Regions from separate parts of the Homo sapiens genome. Here region 1 is linked to region 2. Evidence: fine-mapped expression QTL. A gene starts in region 2. The other region holds a variant in brackets. All regions are shown on one strand. Distances are between the middles of the regions.

What was found. PIP is the estimated chance that this variant, and not a neighbour inherited with it, causes the effect.
Region 1: its variant is fine-mapped to the expression of UCHL1 in lung (TOPMed, PIP 0.95).

The regions. Positions count from the first base shown.
Region 1 is chr4:41,279,827-41,288,163 of GRCh38, forward strand. No RefSeq gene overlaps it. Among named protein-coding and RNA genes, the nearest start is that of UCHL1, 27 kb to the left of the region's middle. RefSeq lists an enhancer at 8,330-8,337. The variant A/G (reference allele first, on the strand shown) is at 3,820.
Region 2 is chr4:41,252,475-41,260,803 of GRCh38, forward strand. UCHL1 (ubiquitin C-terminal hydrolase L1) reads left to right here and starts at 4,454. Exons shown (of 9, transcript NM_004181.5): 1 at 4,454-4,535; 2 at 4,641-4,652; 3 at 5,135-5,263; 4 at 8,173-8,323. The coding sequence starts at 4,503. UCHL1-DT (UCHL1 divergent transcript) reads right to left here and starts at 4,253. Exons shown (of 3, transcript NR_102709.1): 1 at 4,085-4,253. RefSeq lists a silencer at 4,570-5,329 and an enhancer at 5,164-5,664.

The DNA of each region.
Region 1 (8,337 bases), 27 kb after region 2:
AGAACAGCACAGGAAAGATCCACCCCCATGATTCAATTACCTCCCACTGGGTCCCTCCCATGACATGTGAGAATTACGGGAGCTACAATTCAAGATGAGATTTGGGTGGGGACACAGCCAACACTTATCAGGCTCCATTATAGGGCTACTTTATTTGTTTTTAAAAATTTTTTAATTTTCAGAGACAGGTTCTCACTGTCACCCACACTGGAGTGCAGTGGCACGGTCACAGTTTACTGTAACCTCAAATTCCTGGGCTCAACAATCCTTCCACCTTCCGCCTTCCAGGCGGCACAGCTCTGGTTGACAGCTTGGGCTATACAACCAGCTCCACCCCTTACCAGCTGGGTGCCTTGGCCGATGAACTCCCTAAGCCTCGATGTCCTCATCTGTAGAGTGAGGTCAGTATCCGCCTCATAGGATTGTTGTGAGCAGCACATGAGAACATTGTGAAGTTCTTGGGGATGTGCCTGGAATGTATCAAGTGTTATTGTTTTTACTTTTTATCACCACTTAGCTCCTTTCTTTATCTATGCTAATAGAGGGGAGTTCGGCGGGGATACATTAAAACTCCTTTTTCTCCAGTCTTAATCCCAAGGTACAAAGTGCCCTTTTCTGCTCAATGCCATACTAGACCTCATTCCCTGAGGGTAATGCCCTATTTCTTTCTTTCTTTTCTTTTTCTTTTTCTTTCTTTTTTTTTTTTTGAGACGGAGTCTCGCTCTGTCGCCCAGGCTGGAGTGCAGTGGCACATCTCGGCTCACTGCAAGCTCCGCCTCCTGGGTTCACGCCATTCTCCCGTCTCGGCCTCCCGAGTAGCTGGGACTATAGGCGCCTGCCACCAAACCCGGCTAATTTTTTGTATTTTTTCACCGTGTAAGCCAGGATGGTCTCGATCTCCTGACCTCGTGATCCGCCCGTCTCGTCATCCCAAAGTGCTGGGATTACAGGTGTGAGCCACCGCGCCCCGCGGTAATGCCCTATTTCTAAAAGAAGTTTTCCTAAAAGTTATCTTAAACCATAGTGCCCAAACCATCAATGCCTTGTTCATTGCAGTGAGACGAATGCATTTTGCCTTACATTAAAGCATGAAGAATATAAGTGTATTTACCCTCTTGAGGTTACCAATTTTTAAAAGGGAATGATATAATTTAAAATTTAAAAGCTAATTTTCTAAGGACAAGAAGTATTTTAAAAACAGATCAATAGGTTTTTGCTTTGGTTGACATAAGGTATCTCTAGTCATCAAAATAAACAACCTTTAAATGTCCAGCATTTGGATGTTTAAATCCAAACTGAGCGGCTAATATCTTGAATTAACCCATTTCACACCCAAGCACACCGACTAATACGGGAAGGCAGATGATGTATTCAAGGCTATGTGCACTATATCCAGTAGGTGGCAGCATAGGAAAACTTATGGCACTATTGTAGCTGGTAGGATGAGCCAGAAATCTTAATACCAGGAGCAGTTGGTGACTGCCCTTCTTAGGCAAGATGGAGCAGTTTGATAGCATATCCCATATCATTCTTTATTTTAGCGCCGTGTTTCAGACTGGATGAATTTGTCCAGCTACAGATTGGCTAAAGCTGGCCCTGTGAATTGCTTGTTGGTCCATTCATATTTTTGGGTAGGTTCTATTTATTTTTTCATGAAAGTAAAATGAAAGAGAGAAGCAGTAATAATTTCACAAGTTCACTATAATGAATGTCTCTTCTGCTTACGTCGAGTTAGATATTATCCCAAATATAATTGATTTTATGTAATCAATTATATTATCAGTTCTACTTCTAGTAAAACCTTGCTTTCAAATCTATCTTAACATAAGGGTTTAATATAAACCAGTTTGACTTTTCCATCAAGAAAACTGAATCTGGTTCCAACATTGACATTAATTAGTTGGGTTACATTAATCAATTCTCTTTTCTTTTTTTGGTCTCAAATGTGTGTGTGTGTGTATATATATATTTTTTGTTTGTTTGTTTTTTGTTTTGAGATGGAGTCTCACTATGTTGCCCAGGCTGAAGTGCAGTGGCGTGATCTTGGCCTACTTCAGCCTCCACCTCCTGGGTTCAAGCAATTTTCCTGCCACAGCCACACAAGTAGCTGGGATTACAGGTGTGTGCCGCCACACCCAGCTAATTTTAAGTATTTTTAGTAGAGACAGGGTTTTACTATGTTGGCCAGGATGGTCTAAAACTCCTGACCTCAAGTGATCCGCCCACCTCAGCCTCCCAAAGTGCTGGGATTATAGGCGTGAGCCACTGTATCCAGCCTCAATTATATTTTAAAATAAAAGAATTAGGTAGGCTTGAATTCTACTAAAGTCTCATATCCTATTATGTACCACAAGCTTTGAAAATGTTCTTTTTTTTTTTTTTGAGAAGATAGTAGCAGCAATGAAATAATAGTTATTATTTTCCAGGGTAACAATTTTAAGAGATAAATACCCATTTGCATACGTAAATCCTAATTAATCCCATTCCCTTGTGGTCATAATTCCAACAATGGCAATTAGATGTGGCACGTTTGGGTTGGGAACAGATCCTCAATTTAGGAGTTTTTCTATGATCTATATTTTTTTACTTAATGTAATTTGTTTCATTGTAATACACATTTGTTTCCCTTTTAGTGCTTTTTTGGGGTTCTTACAATAGAGCTGATAATCTTTTTAATGGGTGCTTTCAAAAGAAAGAGGTGATGAGATAAGGATCAGAACTGCTGAAAGACATGTGGGAAGTAGCAGTGTTTTTCTTCTAGACTCAGAACCTGGAAAGATTTTTTAAGAGTTTAAATGTGACTCAATCCTTTGTCTTATACATGAATCCTCTCTGCTTTTCTATTCAGCCATTGGGTTATTTTTGAATCCCTAGTTCTAGTAAAGCTCAAATGCGAGTGCTTCAAAGAAGTGCATTATTTATGAACCACCAAGCTGAGGACCAAAACAGGTTTTATGAGAAACTTAATTTTAACAACATAGTGTTAATTTTCCATAAGCAACTTAATTATCTATGCTAATAGAGGGGATTATGGCTTGAATACATTAAATCCGCTTTAAACTAACTTAAATATTTTAATATTATTGTTTCTGTTAGTCTAAGAGTCCTATAAGGAAGGGGCCATATGGTTGGGTGTGGTGGCTCACACCTGTAATTCCAGCACTTTGGGAGGCCAAGGCCAGAGGAACCCTTGAGCCCAGGAGTTCAAGGCCAGCCCGGGCAACATAGTGAGACCCCTATCTCTACAAAAAATGAAACACTATCTGGGTATGGTGGTGTGCAGCTGTAGTCCCAGCTACTTAGGAGGCTGAGGCAGGAGGCTCACTTGAGTTCGGGAGTTTGAGGCTGCAGTGAGCCATGATCACACCACTGAACTCCAGCCTGGGCAACAGAGTGAGACTCTGTCTCACAAAAAAAGAGTGGGGGGCATATAAGTTCAAAAGGAGTTTATAAACGATTCAGCGTCCTGATAGTGTCACTTATCACAACCAGTCTTTCTTAAAGTATGGCCTGGGGACCCATGGGGCTCCCTGAGACCTTATACAGAGTCTGTGATGTCAAAACTATTTCCATAATGATCCTAAGACATTATGTATCTTTTTCACTCTTGAATGTAGAAGTAGATAGGTGAATCAGATGTCACTATTAAGCCAGTACTTCACTTTAGATGGAAAAATGTAAAACAATGCCATTCTTCTATTTTTTTAATTGTAAAAAAATGTAGTTCTTTTTTGTAAAAAATGTGTTGTTACCATATTTATAACTTTTTTTTTTTTCGAGACAGGGTTTCACTGTGTTGCCCGGACTGGAGGGAGTGGC[A/G]TGATCACGGCTCATTGCAATCTCAACTTCCCAGGCTCAAGTGATCCTCCCACCTCAGCCTCCCAAATAGCTGGGACTACAGACTCAAGCCACCATGCCCAGCTAATTCGTGTATTTTTTTTATGGAGATGGGGTTTTGCTATATTGCCCTTGCTGGTCTCGAACTCCTGGGTTCAAGCGATCCAACCGCTTTGGTCTCTTAAAAGTGCTGGGATTACAGGCGTGAGCCACCAGACCTGGCCCCATGTTTACAATTTTTATGTTAAAGTTAATTAATAAAGATTTCAATTATTCTCAGCTTTGATTGCTAAGATGACATATATCAATAGACATAACATATTGAGGTCCTCAATAATCTTGAAGAGATAAAGGGTTTCCTGAGACCCAAAAAGTTTGAGAATTATTAGACTAAAGCCAAGTACTGAGCCAGAGATACTCCCTGCCTCTCCTGTATCTTTTTTTTTGTTTTTTTTTTTTTTTTGAGACAGAGTTTCATTCTTGTTGCCCAGGCTAGAGTGCAATGACAAGATCGTGGCTCATTGCAACCTCTGCCTCTTGGATTCAAGTGATTTTCCTGCCTCAGCCTCCCAGGTAGCTGGGATTACAGGCACCCGCCACCATGCCTGGCTAATTTTGTATTTTTAGTAGAGATGGAGTTTCACTATGTTGGTCAGGCTGGTCTCGAACTCCTGACCTCAAGTGATCCACCTGCCTCGGCCTCCCAAAGTGCTGGGATTACAGGCATGAGCCACCATGCCCGGCCTCCTCTCCTGTAGCTTTGAATGTTTGTTTTGCTGCCTACAGTTTTTACATAATTAATATAAGCTATATGAAGAATATTGTTCTCCTTTCATAAGTTTCCATGTGTCTCCATGGCCATTACTCTCATCGTTTGTAACTGCTGTTATACTCTATGATACTAATATACAATATTATAATTTAATGTAATTATTCTTTTTATAACAGTATTACATTTTTTGTTATGAAATACAGTCCAAGGTGACAGCAGGGTCAGTATCTGGTTAGGGCCCTCTCCTTACACTACAGACAGCAACCTTCTCAATATACCCTCACATGCTCTTTCTTTGGTGCCTGCAGTGGACAGAAAGAGAGAGAAAGTCCTTTGGTGTCTCTTCCCATAAAGGCGCTAATGCCACCACGATGGCCCCACCCTCATGATGTCATCTAAACTTAATCACCCCAAAGGCCCCATCTCCAAATACCATCACACTGGGGCTTAGGGCTTCAGTTGATGAATTTCAAGGGGATATAATTCAGCCCATAGCAGAAGTTCACCCTCAAAACAACCTAGTAGCACAAATTCACCTCATGCTAACTTACATATGATTGGATATATTTTATATTAAATAACACAAAACAATTTTAGGTACATGGGAGTCGTACAACAGTTGCTTCAAAAAATACATGCTTGGGGGTTGGTGATTAGGGGTGACTTTGGGATCTACGTCAGGGGCTCACCATCCTCATCAGAAATCCTTCACTCCTCCAGAGAAAGGGCAGCCACATAATCATTTGCCCAGGCCCCAAATGCTCTACCTGGGTTGTTTGATTGGCTTGAGCAAAAGGACTTTGATGTTCCTTCGGCTGAGCTCAAAGGACTGCTCAGCTGCCGTAGATTATCCCAAAGTTCTGTGTAGTCAGATTGCCTGGTGCTTTATTCCTAAGCTGCTTTTATGCCTTCCCGTCCTCACCTTGCCTGACTCCTGAGCAGCAGGGCCCACCGTTCACCTCTTGGCCAGTTCCAGCTTCAGCAAGTGCACGCTGTTAGTTGACCTTTGACTCTCAAGTCTGCCAGCCCCACAGCTGCTTCTTTTAAGAAATTTGTAATGCCCCCTTTACTCTCCTAAAATAAAATTCATAGCTAATATAACCTACCTACACATATAATGTTTACAAATCAATTTAAAGACACAAAATATGTATTTTTTTCAACCTGTAAACGCTCAGTTATTACTCCATAAGATGCATAAAGTAGGGAGAGGCTTGTATGTAAACATGAGATCCCTGAGAGAGGAACAGACACACAGCTGATGTAATCAGGGGTCACAGCAGCTCATTATTGGCCATGGGAAGTTTCCAAAATGGTGAACCATCTTGGCAAAATTCCAAACACAATTATATTACATTCTGCCCTTGATTTACCCCATAATTGCACTTATGAAAACTTCAGTGCAAAAACTCTGTGAAAAATATTTTATATATAGGATCAGAAAATTATACACAGATTTTTCATCTACAAGAGTCCCCATGGGGACATTCAAAAGCTGTGTAAGACGCAGCACAAATTCCTCATTGTATGAGACTGCCTTCTGGTGACTCGGGCCCTGAACACTAAATGCCAGTGGGACCTACCCTACTATGATTACAACAACAAAATATTTGCCCACACATTTCCAAAACAGCCCTTAGGGGTTGGCACTACCACCCCTAAGGACCACTTAGCTAGACTGGAGAATCTTTAATAACTAATCTGTGCTTGGCAGAATTCTAAAATGGTCCCCAAGATTCCCAGCCCCTGGTGCACAGACACCTTCTCCCAGGTATTTAATCCGACACTAATCTAGATGCTGCACTGAAGGGATTTTGCAGGTGTAATTAAGGCTCCAAATAAATGGACATTAAGATAGAGAGATTATACTCAGTTGGCCTGACCCAGTCCTTAAAAAGGACTGGGCTCTTTCTGGCAAGGGAACGACTGGCAGCCTTGAGGGGCTAAGACTGGTCTGCAACTGACCATCAGCAAGGAAATGAGGATGTAAGTTCTACAACCGCAAGGACTTGAACTTGACCAACTGTCCCATATAAGCCTGGAAACTGATTCTTCCCCCAGAGCTTTAGAAAGGGACATAGCCCAGCCAACTCCTTAATTTCAACTTTTAAGTTTCTAAGAAGAGAACCCAGTCACTCTGTGCTAGACTTCTAACCTGCAGAATTATGCTCTAATGAAGGAGTGTTGATTTAAGCCTCTAAGTTTGTGGTAATTTGTTATGCAGCAACAGAAAACTCACACATAATTTAATTTTATTTATTTTTTTTTAAGAGACAGGGTCTCCCTGTATTGTCCAGGCTGTTCTCGAACTTCTGGCCTCAAGCAATCTTCCCACCTTGGCTTCCCAAAGTGCTGGGACTGCAGGTTTGAGTCACTGTACCTGGTCTCACACATAATTTAATAAGGCAATGCAATGTGTTCACTAAAACACTGGGCATCCCCCTTGTTGCCCTCTGTCAACCACCCATTCTCTGTCCCTACCACTGACCCTCATGGTTGGACTGGGAAGAAGTCATATTGATTCTTCTCAGTTCCTTGCCCTCTCTATCTCTCTGAATATGAGGGTGAAAAGCATACACTGAAATTCCAAAAACTGACCACACTCCCTGATTCTAGATCCTCCCTGAGGATGTTGAAGGTCATCTGGGTTCTCTGGTTCAGCCCACAGCCTATGTTTACCTCATTTATAACCTCTGCTTATGCTTTTCATCATGAGGCACTGTGCTGGTGAAACCTAAACAGGAAAAGTAATGTGTAACCTTAACTATTTATTGAAATCTGATCCGCATGTTTTACTCATTGCTGCAGAAGGTCACATAAATCTAATCTGTATGAAAACAATGAAAAAATGTTCTTCAGCATGCATGGGACTGAAATACTTCACATTTTGTGTGCAGGAAAGAATCCCAGGCCCTCAGGTATGACCCATTGCCTACTTCCCTCTGGGACTATTTTTTTCTGTGTTCTCCCACCCCCCACCGCCCTTTGCAGGCATCAGCCACCAGAAATGCCACCAACAGAGTCAGTTCACTCTGGAAGGCTCTCTTTTTTGTTCCTTTTGGAAACACGAAAGCCACATTTGAGAGCTTTATGATAATTATTATTTTAAAATTTAAAGCCCATAAAATCATCTTTGAAATAAAGAACAACAGTTGGCTCAGAGACCAGGCTTAGTTTTTCTACTTCATGTGCCTATATTTGCTTCCGTGGGATGCTATGGACCCATGCCCCTTTTTGTAAAGACATGTGGTGCCAGTATAGAGGCCATAAGTTTACTATTATTTGTGCAATTGACTTATTTCATGAATTTGCCCCCAGACTGTCTTCTGATATTGTTTACCCAATCACAAAAGGGGCCTTCAAATATTTATAGCATTTCCTTCTTTTTTGCCTTACAATATACTCTGGATTTCTCAAACTTTTGAAATCAGCATGCATTGTACATTAATTTTCTTCCTAATCTTTCCCTCTGATTATATATCTCCCCCATTTTCTTAATCGCTTTGACACAGGATTCTTTTGGTGCCACTTTGCCAGACAAAAATCTCCACCGTCAGCAGTTCCTCTGCTGGGGCTTCACATGGGCCTGCTGGGCTCACCTCACCCACTCTGCTCAGCAGGCTGCGCTCTGCTCATGCTACTGGCCCAGATCGCACGCCTGCTGTGGCTCTGTGCCCAGCCTGTGGCTGGTTAAGGCGTGCGGTGACCAGCTTCTGCCTTGGGTGCCG
Region 2 (8,329 bases):
GATCTGACAGGAGGCGGAGCTCAGGCAGTAATGTTTGCTCACCCGCCGCTCACCTCTTGCTGTGCCACCCAGTTCCTAACAGGCCACAGACCTGTACCAGTCCTCAGCCTGGGACTTGAGGACTCCTGGTATAATATAGTACAGTGGTCAAGAGTGCAGACTGTCTGTGGTCAAATTTCAGTTCTCATGACTTAAATAACCATAGGCAAAGAACTTAACCTTTCTGATCTTCATTTCTAAATGAGAATAATAATAGTAACCTACCTAATAGGTTGTTATGTTGATTAAAAGAGTTAATACACAGAAAACACAAAGAAGTAGTGCCTGGCATCCGTAAGCAATCAGTAAGTGTTAGCTATGATTATGCTGCTAAAAGCATGCTCACCATTACATGTGAAGAATTTACATAAATGTTGAACCACTCTAATTATTAAGTGCTTTCTTATATAAACTAATATTTTCATCTGACTTCTACCTGTCTGTCCTGTATTCTTAAATAATCATAAAGATTATTCTCGCCCTCTTTGTATTTTTGAGCATTTGGTATCATGTAACTCCCCTCCCCATCCCCCAAACACACACACAAACCCTTTCTCTTCTCCACATCATATACTGTCTTCTCAATTTCTTCAACCACCTTTGTTCATTATTTTGGCGCTCAGTCTCTGAAAACTCTCTAATATGTCAATGTCTCTTTTGAAGTGTGGTAGTTCGAATTTTCAGTTGAAAAGTATTTATTGAGTGTTCATTATATGCCAGGCTGGGCATCATAATCCAGTTATAGTCTGGTCAATTCTGTGAGTGGATTAGATCTTGAATATTATATTAATCTAGCCAAAGGTTAGCAAATACCTGGTTATCCTTACCACTTCCCTTTCCCATACTCGTGGTAGACATCACTAATCAATCACAGCATTTTTCCCCCTACTGGACTCAGGACTCTCCTTCAGGAACCTATGATTAAAATGAAATTGAATCTCTCACTCCTGGTATAAATAAAGATTGCACTAGCTTTATAGTCAAATTATGACACCTGAAATATTTGAATCTTTTTCTCAGGTACTGTTCACAAAGCCAGATCTAATTCATTAATGCATCTGTAAATGATTTTTTTTAAAAAATGTTTTTCCTTCTGATCTCTGTGTATTTATTTTTAAAAGGTTACAATCAAACTATTGTGTTGTTTTCACTTGATATTTTCCAAATTATTTCATACTTTTGCAATCATAGCATCAAGAAAAAAGTTAATATAAAGATTAACTGTATGGCAATAATTGACAACTGTTACTATAATATAGAGCTTTACACATATTCCTGTTACATTTTTAATAGCTTTATTGTGATACCTAAACCCACTTTTTAGTTTTTTAGTATATTCACAGGGTTATGTAATCGTCACCTAAATCCCTGTTAAATTTCATCATTTTATTTTAAACTTATTTTTTAATCCCAAAATTCTGCCATTTATTATGTATTTATTTATTTTAAGAGATGGGGTCTCACTCTGTTGCCCAGGTTGGAATGCAGTCATGCCATCACAGCTCATTGTAGCCTCGAACTCCTGGGCTCAAGCAATCCTCCCACTTTGGCCTCTCAAGTAGCTGGGACTGCAGGTACACACCACCACACCTGGCTAAGAATTCTGCCATTTAGACTGCTTGTTCTTGCTTGTATGCACGACCTCTCTTTTTCTCTGCTGTAATAAAGTGGCACCAGACAAGGTTAAAACCATTGTCAGGTGGCTACAGGTTGAGGTAGCTCCATCCAGTACCACTTTTTTTTTTAAGGTAGAATCAATTAAATAAGCTATAAAACCACCTCAACTGTGGTATCAACCAATGCCAACCCTGGCAGCATAAGAAATACAATGACAGTGTTCTACCTGTCCATCCAGTTAATAACCCCCAAAGAAAAGAAGATAAGTTCTGGCTGGCATAACTTGTTCTAAATGCATCCATCTTATTGTTTCTAAAAGTAAAAAATTATGAGTCCTAACATTTGGCTAATGACTGATATAAACTCTTCTGGCCTGCAGTTTCAGCAGTATATTCCCAATCACCCCCTACTTCTTCTTCTTCTTCTTTTTTTTTTTTTTAAAAAAGATTAGGCTTAGGTTTGTTCATATCCAGTCTCTGGCATCTCTTTGTAAGCAGGGAGTTGTTTCATTCACTGCTCTGATGCTTCCTGGCAAACAGTAGGCCATATATGTATATGAATGTGAATGAATTAATGCCTTCAACAAATATTTCTGACAGTGATTTCATGACTGCTTTTATTAGTTATTTTGGCAATCACTTATAACTGCTAACGTCTGCTTGCCGATCAGCCCTTAGCTTAAATGTCACTTCCTTCAGGACGCCTTCCTGATCCCCTCCACTAGGTTAGGTGCTCCTGATCTCTGCTCCCTTTCATACAACTCTTATGACTGATAAAAACAGCACGAGGGGGCCAGGCGCGGTGGCTCACGCCTGTAATCCCAGCACTTTGGGAGGCCGAGACGGGCGGATCACGAGGTCAGCAGATGAGACCATCCTGGCTAACACGGTGAAACCCCGTCTCTACTAAAAATACAAAAAAAATTAGCCGGGTGTGGTGGCGGGCGCCTGTAGTCCCAGCTACTCCGGAGGCTGAGGCAGGAGAATGGCGTGAACCGGGGAGGCGGAGCTTGCAGTGAGCCGAGATCGCGCCACTGCACTCCAGCTTGGGCGACAGAGCGAGACTCCGTCTCAAAACAAAACAAACAAAACAAACAAACAAAAAAACGGCATGAGGGAAATTTCCATGTTTATTGTGTTCATCTTTGTATGCCTAATTCCAAACTTTCCAAGCTCGGCACCCAGCACACAGTAGGTTCTTAATATTTGTTGAGTGAATGAATAAATGAAGTAAATTGGAAATGTAATTTGTCTTTGTCTAAAGGCAAGAACTCATTCAATATAACCTAGTCACTTGTCTTGACCTTCACCTCTTTTTTTCTTTAACAACCTTATTGAGGGAAAATTTACATACCATAAGATTCACCCATTAAGCTCCTCTTACTAATTTTTTTCTCTCTCATTTTTGTGTGTGAAGGTCATTTTCTAATGGCAAAAATGGAAAGAAAATAGAAGTAGAATGTTGTGGAATCTTAGATAAAGAATGGGCTCTTGGAGCCCAGTTTAGCAGGGTTTACTTCTCAGTTTTACTTTTCAATTGTGACCGTAAGCAAATTAACTTCTCTAGGCCTGGGATTCTGATCTGTAAAATTGCACTAATATGAGTCTCTTCACGGCTCCTCTAAGGATTAAATGAGAGACACATGCAAAGGATCCCCAAAAACAATAACTCAAAAAATGTTGATTCCCTCCCTTCCCTCTGTCATCTGTTAACCTCAACTTCCTAAATAGAAGGTCTATTCTTTTACCATCATCATTATTCTCTTCGGTGCCTATTTTTAAAAAATACTCAACCTTCTTGCTTCCTTCGCTACCTAAGTATTTCTGCAAGCCCACTTTGTTCTGCAGCTTAGCTTTCCTGGCACAATTCTTATAGATTTTGGTCCCTTTTAAAATTCATTCTTCAGCAAATGCTTTCTCTCTCCATCTTTTGACTAGAGATCATTAGAGATCACCTGAGATCATTAGAGAACAGTGGTTTCCTTGGTTGCCATTCCCTTTCTTCTTCATTGGGAGTATTCTGCGGTGAACTCAGACATTTTATTTTTCAAAGCTTCCCATTCTTTTAAAAATGCTTTTCCTTTTACAGCCTCTCGCTCAAAATCATACCCATCTTTTCCCTGGATCTGTTTTCTCAAGTCTCCAATCGCCTGCCTTCTTTGTGTCTTGTATTACCCTCACATCCCCCAGCTTTCTACTGCTCTCCCAGGACCAACCATTTCTTCCGCGGGAGTCACATTACATCAGCATTCCTAATGCAGTATCTGTTATCTACCAGATTCTGTTTTATTCTAGGTAGTCACTTAAAAACGAACCTCGGTACTGGTCTGACTTAACATGGAGGAGGAATTGTCTAAGGTTAAACGCAAACTGCTGAGAGATTTGGGGCGGGGGGCACACATTTACATTCATTCGTATTAAATATATACCTGTTGAATTTGTGCTTTTTCTCAAATGCTTCAGAGACTCGAGCTTTAGAGTAATTGGGATGGTGAAAGGATGGGTTTCCAGAAACTTCGCCCAAAATTAAAGACTCCATCAAAAGGACTGCTCCATACACTCAAGGAACACCCACCAACAAATCCCGTCTCCACAACCACCAGATTATCTCACCGGCGAGTGAGACTGCAAGGTTTGGGGGCCCGGCCGTACCACTCCGCGCTGCGCACGGGGGGTTCGTACCCATCTGGCCGCGACCGTCCGTTTCCCCCTCGCTTGGTTCTGCCCCTGCTCCCCCTGCACAGGCCTCACAGTGCGTCTGGCCGGCGCTTTATAGCTGCAGCCTGGGCGGCTCCGCTAGCTGTTTTTCGTCTTCCCTAGGCTATTTCTGCCGGGCGCTCCGCGAAGATGCAGCTCAAGCCGATGGAGATCAACCCCGAGGTGAGCGCCAGGTGCACCGCTACCCGGAGAGCGCGAGGCCGAGGGAGGGGGAGCCGAGTCGCTGATCGGTTCGGTTTTGCCTTTTTCTTTGCATTTGCCTTTCAGATGCTGAACAAAGTGAGTGGCGTCTCGCGCCGTCTCTGGCCCCCTCCCCCGCGAGCGCCGAGGCGGGGGCGCCCACCGGTTCCGGCTGCTGGCAGGGACCAAGCCGCCCGCTGCGAGCACCGGAGACGGCCGGGCTGGGGCGTGGGCTGGGCGCCTTTCCTGGGCCCCTGCATTTAGCGGGTGACTCTACGAAACCGGTCACGGGGAGACGGAGGGGGCTGCGCCCCGTGGCGAGCGAGCGCCAGGCGGAGCTCCCGAGGGCGTGGCGCGGGCAGCACAGACTCGGCTGCACGGGCTTCGCGGGCGCCACGTGTGGGCCGCGCTTTGTGCTGTGTCATTGCGCCGGCCCGGGTGGGGGTGGCAGGGCGGGACTGGGGCTCCTCCCAGGCTCGGGTGCGGGCGCGGAGGGCGCGCGCCTCCTGGCCCCGCCCCCTGGCAGGTGCCCGCGACCCGCGTGTCCCCGTGCGCCTGGCCGCCTTGTCTCCTCTCCGCAGGTGCTGTCCCGGCTGGGGGTCGCCGGCCAGTGGCGCTTCGTGGACGTGCTGGGGCTGGAAGAGGAGTCTCTGGGCTCGGTGCCAGCGCCTGCCTGCGCGCTGCTGCTGCTGTTTCCCCTCACGGCCCAGGTAGGGCGTGGGGCCCAGGATGCGCCGGCCGCCGGCAGTGCACGCCGCTCCCCAGCTTGAGTCCTCGGGGGCTCCCCGCCCCGCCCCCTCCCCTGTAGGTGATGCGGGGCGCGCCTACAAGGAAGGGAGGAGCCTGCATTTTCGTGGTACCTACTCCCTGGGCTCCTGTTCCAGCGGTGCCTGTCGCCTTCTTGCCCATCCGTCCACAATTGCCTTAAATTTGGAAGAGAGGCAGTATCTCAGTTCCATCTATCCCGTTATCCAGGGAAATCATTCATCCTACTCATGAGTTCCCTCGAACTTGGGCTTTTTCGAGCCTCCGGTTCCGGGGAATGGCTGCTGGTTTCCCTTTAAGGGCTATAACCTGTCAACTCATTGTTTGCTTCTCAGACTCCCACCTAGCTGTAGAATGGAGGGGGAAGGGCTGACCTAAATCGCAGGGAAACAATTAGGTTCGCTAATTCTCCGCCTCCATTACTTGGGTTTCTGATGGTCTTAAGGGGTTCTTCTCTCTTCTCCACTCCCACCACTTGCACACTTGGTTTTTAGCCTCTTGAATGTATTTCTTAAAGCTTAATCATTTTGTGTATGGTTTCTGTGTGGGAACCTCCTTCCTCTTCACTTATCCTTGTTCATCTCTGACCTTGTAGCTAACTGAAATAGGGGGTTATTAGCTCAGTTTTGAAAGCACCTTTGCATTTCCCTTGAAATGATTTTCCTCCTACAAGTGTGCATGGATAGATGTATCTGAAAGACAGCGTCAGATTTTTTTTTTTAAAGGATAGCTAGGATATTTGCAGTCTTGTGATGTATGGAATCCCAGTCATTAGCGCATGGCATTGTCTTATCTCCTATTGCTGTCACTTGACCGCTGATGTGGGAGTGACTGAAATTAGCTTTAGCAAAACTTGGGGCATCACTCTAAAGAGTGAGGTTAACTGAAGCACCGTCCTAAGGCTAGGTGTTCTGGAAGCATCTGTAGCCAAAATCAAGAGTATGGGAAGTTCCAAGCCTTCCTCCTAGTAAGTAAGCTAAGTATTGTGGGTAAAAACACTTATTTACAGCTAATAAGATGATCTCACTGACATGTTTTTATTGCTAAAGTCTTTTACTTGGGCTAAAAGGAAGATGCCAAATTGTTGGAAGTCGAATTAGCTTCCTGGTTGACCAAATCAGTCTCCTGTCTCCAGTTGAGCATCACACAGAGGTTTTTTATTAGAGCAACCATGATGACTCGGAGGTTTTGAGCAGCATTCAGAGGCAAGGCCTCTGGGAGGCAGTGGTGCAGCATGTTTGCCTTTAAAAGCTGACTGTTCTCCTTTTGCTGAATCTTGTTTAGAGAACATTCTAGTTTGTGTTATGTTTGAAAGAGCTCGATACTTTGTCCTTTAGTTTCAATTCAACCTATCAGATTTATCGAGCGCCTATTCTGCTACACAGAATGCCTACTGGACAAAACACTGAAGCCGATTGAAAGAAAAGTTGAGGTTTTATAGGTTGACTCCAAAGATGCTAATGTTAATTTGGAAGGCATTTAATTTTTGACTAAGGGAATGTTATGACCCCCTACATGGACCACTTCTGAAACATTAAGTGCTAGTAGACTATTTACAGAATGATTTCCATGGAAGAGCTCAAGCAGCCCTAAAGGATGGTGCTATCCCATTTTAACATTTCATCTAATTAGCCTAGAAAATGAAAAACACTTACTGGTCAATGAATACTAAGTTGAGGATCCAGTTAGATAGAAGCGAAAAAGTTCTGCTAGTTGGAGTTTAAGTTGATCTTCTGGGGTAAGAGATCTTACTCTTCTATTAGTACCAGAGAGCAAGCTTAAACTTCAGTTCATGTACAGAAATGCAAAGCTACTAGAATTGGAAATAGGTTTCTGATGGTCTGTCTGGTTTTGCTCGTTATGGGAAATCAGTGTTTCTATAGTGTTAGTACCCTACTCTTTAACTGGGAAGTCCTAACTTATTTATTATATTTTTATTTTTTAGAGACAAGGTCTCAAACTTCTGAGCTCAAGTGATCCTCCTGCCTCAGCCTCCCTAGTAGCTGGGATTATAGGTGCAAGCCACTGACCCTGGCTCAAGAAATCATAACTTCTAAGGTCTTTAAAGCTAGTTAGTGAAAAGTCCAGATAGGCTTACTAAATTACTATACAGAAAGCTAGCAGATGCTTTGAGGAAATCCGTTTCCTAGTCCGATTCATTTACCAGTCTCTATCCTCCTCCTCAAATTGCCAGTCTGTCCTCAAAGTAAACTGTTTAGCTGGCAAGGACAAGCTAGTGTCACATCTTCCTCTTGTAAAATCACAGCCCAATACCCTGGATCAGTTGTCTTTTCCTTAAAAAGAGGGCGGAGGTAATGGTTAATTTCTTTCACTTGTTCTTTTCAGCAGTTAAGGCCGTTTTTGTTTTTGAAGCGAAGTGTACTTAAGCCGAGTAGAAGTAGAACTTTAAAGAATAATGAAATGTAAACCAGCTGGTGCTCTTGTTGGGCATTCAATTGACTGAAGCTTGATTTAGGATGCCTATGTGAAATAGTTGTTAAGTGTTAAAGGGAGAAAATAATGAATTGGTTTCTTTGTTTTCTGACTTCGTGACACCATTTTGGGCTGAAAGGTTGCAGTGGTGTCTAGACACAGCCTTGGGCAGTATCCAAGGCAGTCACTGCACTGCAGCACCAGGGTGGAGTCTCCGAACCTCTCAGAGCCCCACTGGCTGGCGTGGGTGGTGTGGGAGGCAGACAGACGGGCCCTTCTCTGGGAGTCAGCCAACATCTAGAACCAGGGGTTCTGGTCACACATCCCACTGGTGTTTCCATTTAGTTGGTAGAACTCATGTGCTGCCATCTGTTCTTTGCACTTTCATTCTGAGATGTAAAAACGCTTTTTACATTCGCAGCATGAGAACTTCAGGAAAAAGCAGATTGAAGAGCTGAAGGGACAAGAAGTTAGTCCTAAAGTGTACTTCATGAAGCAGACCATTGGGAATTCCTGTGGCACAATCGGACTTATTCACGCAGTGGCCAATAATCAAGACAAACTGGGATTTGGTAGGT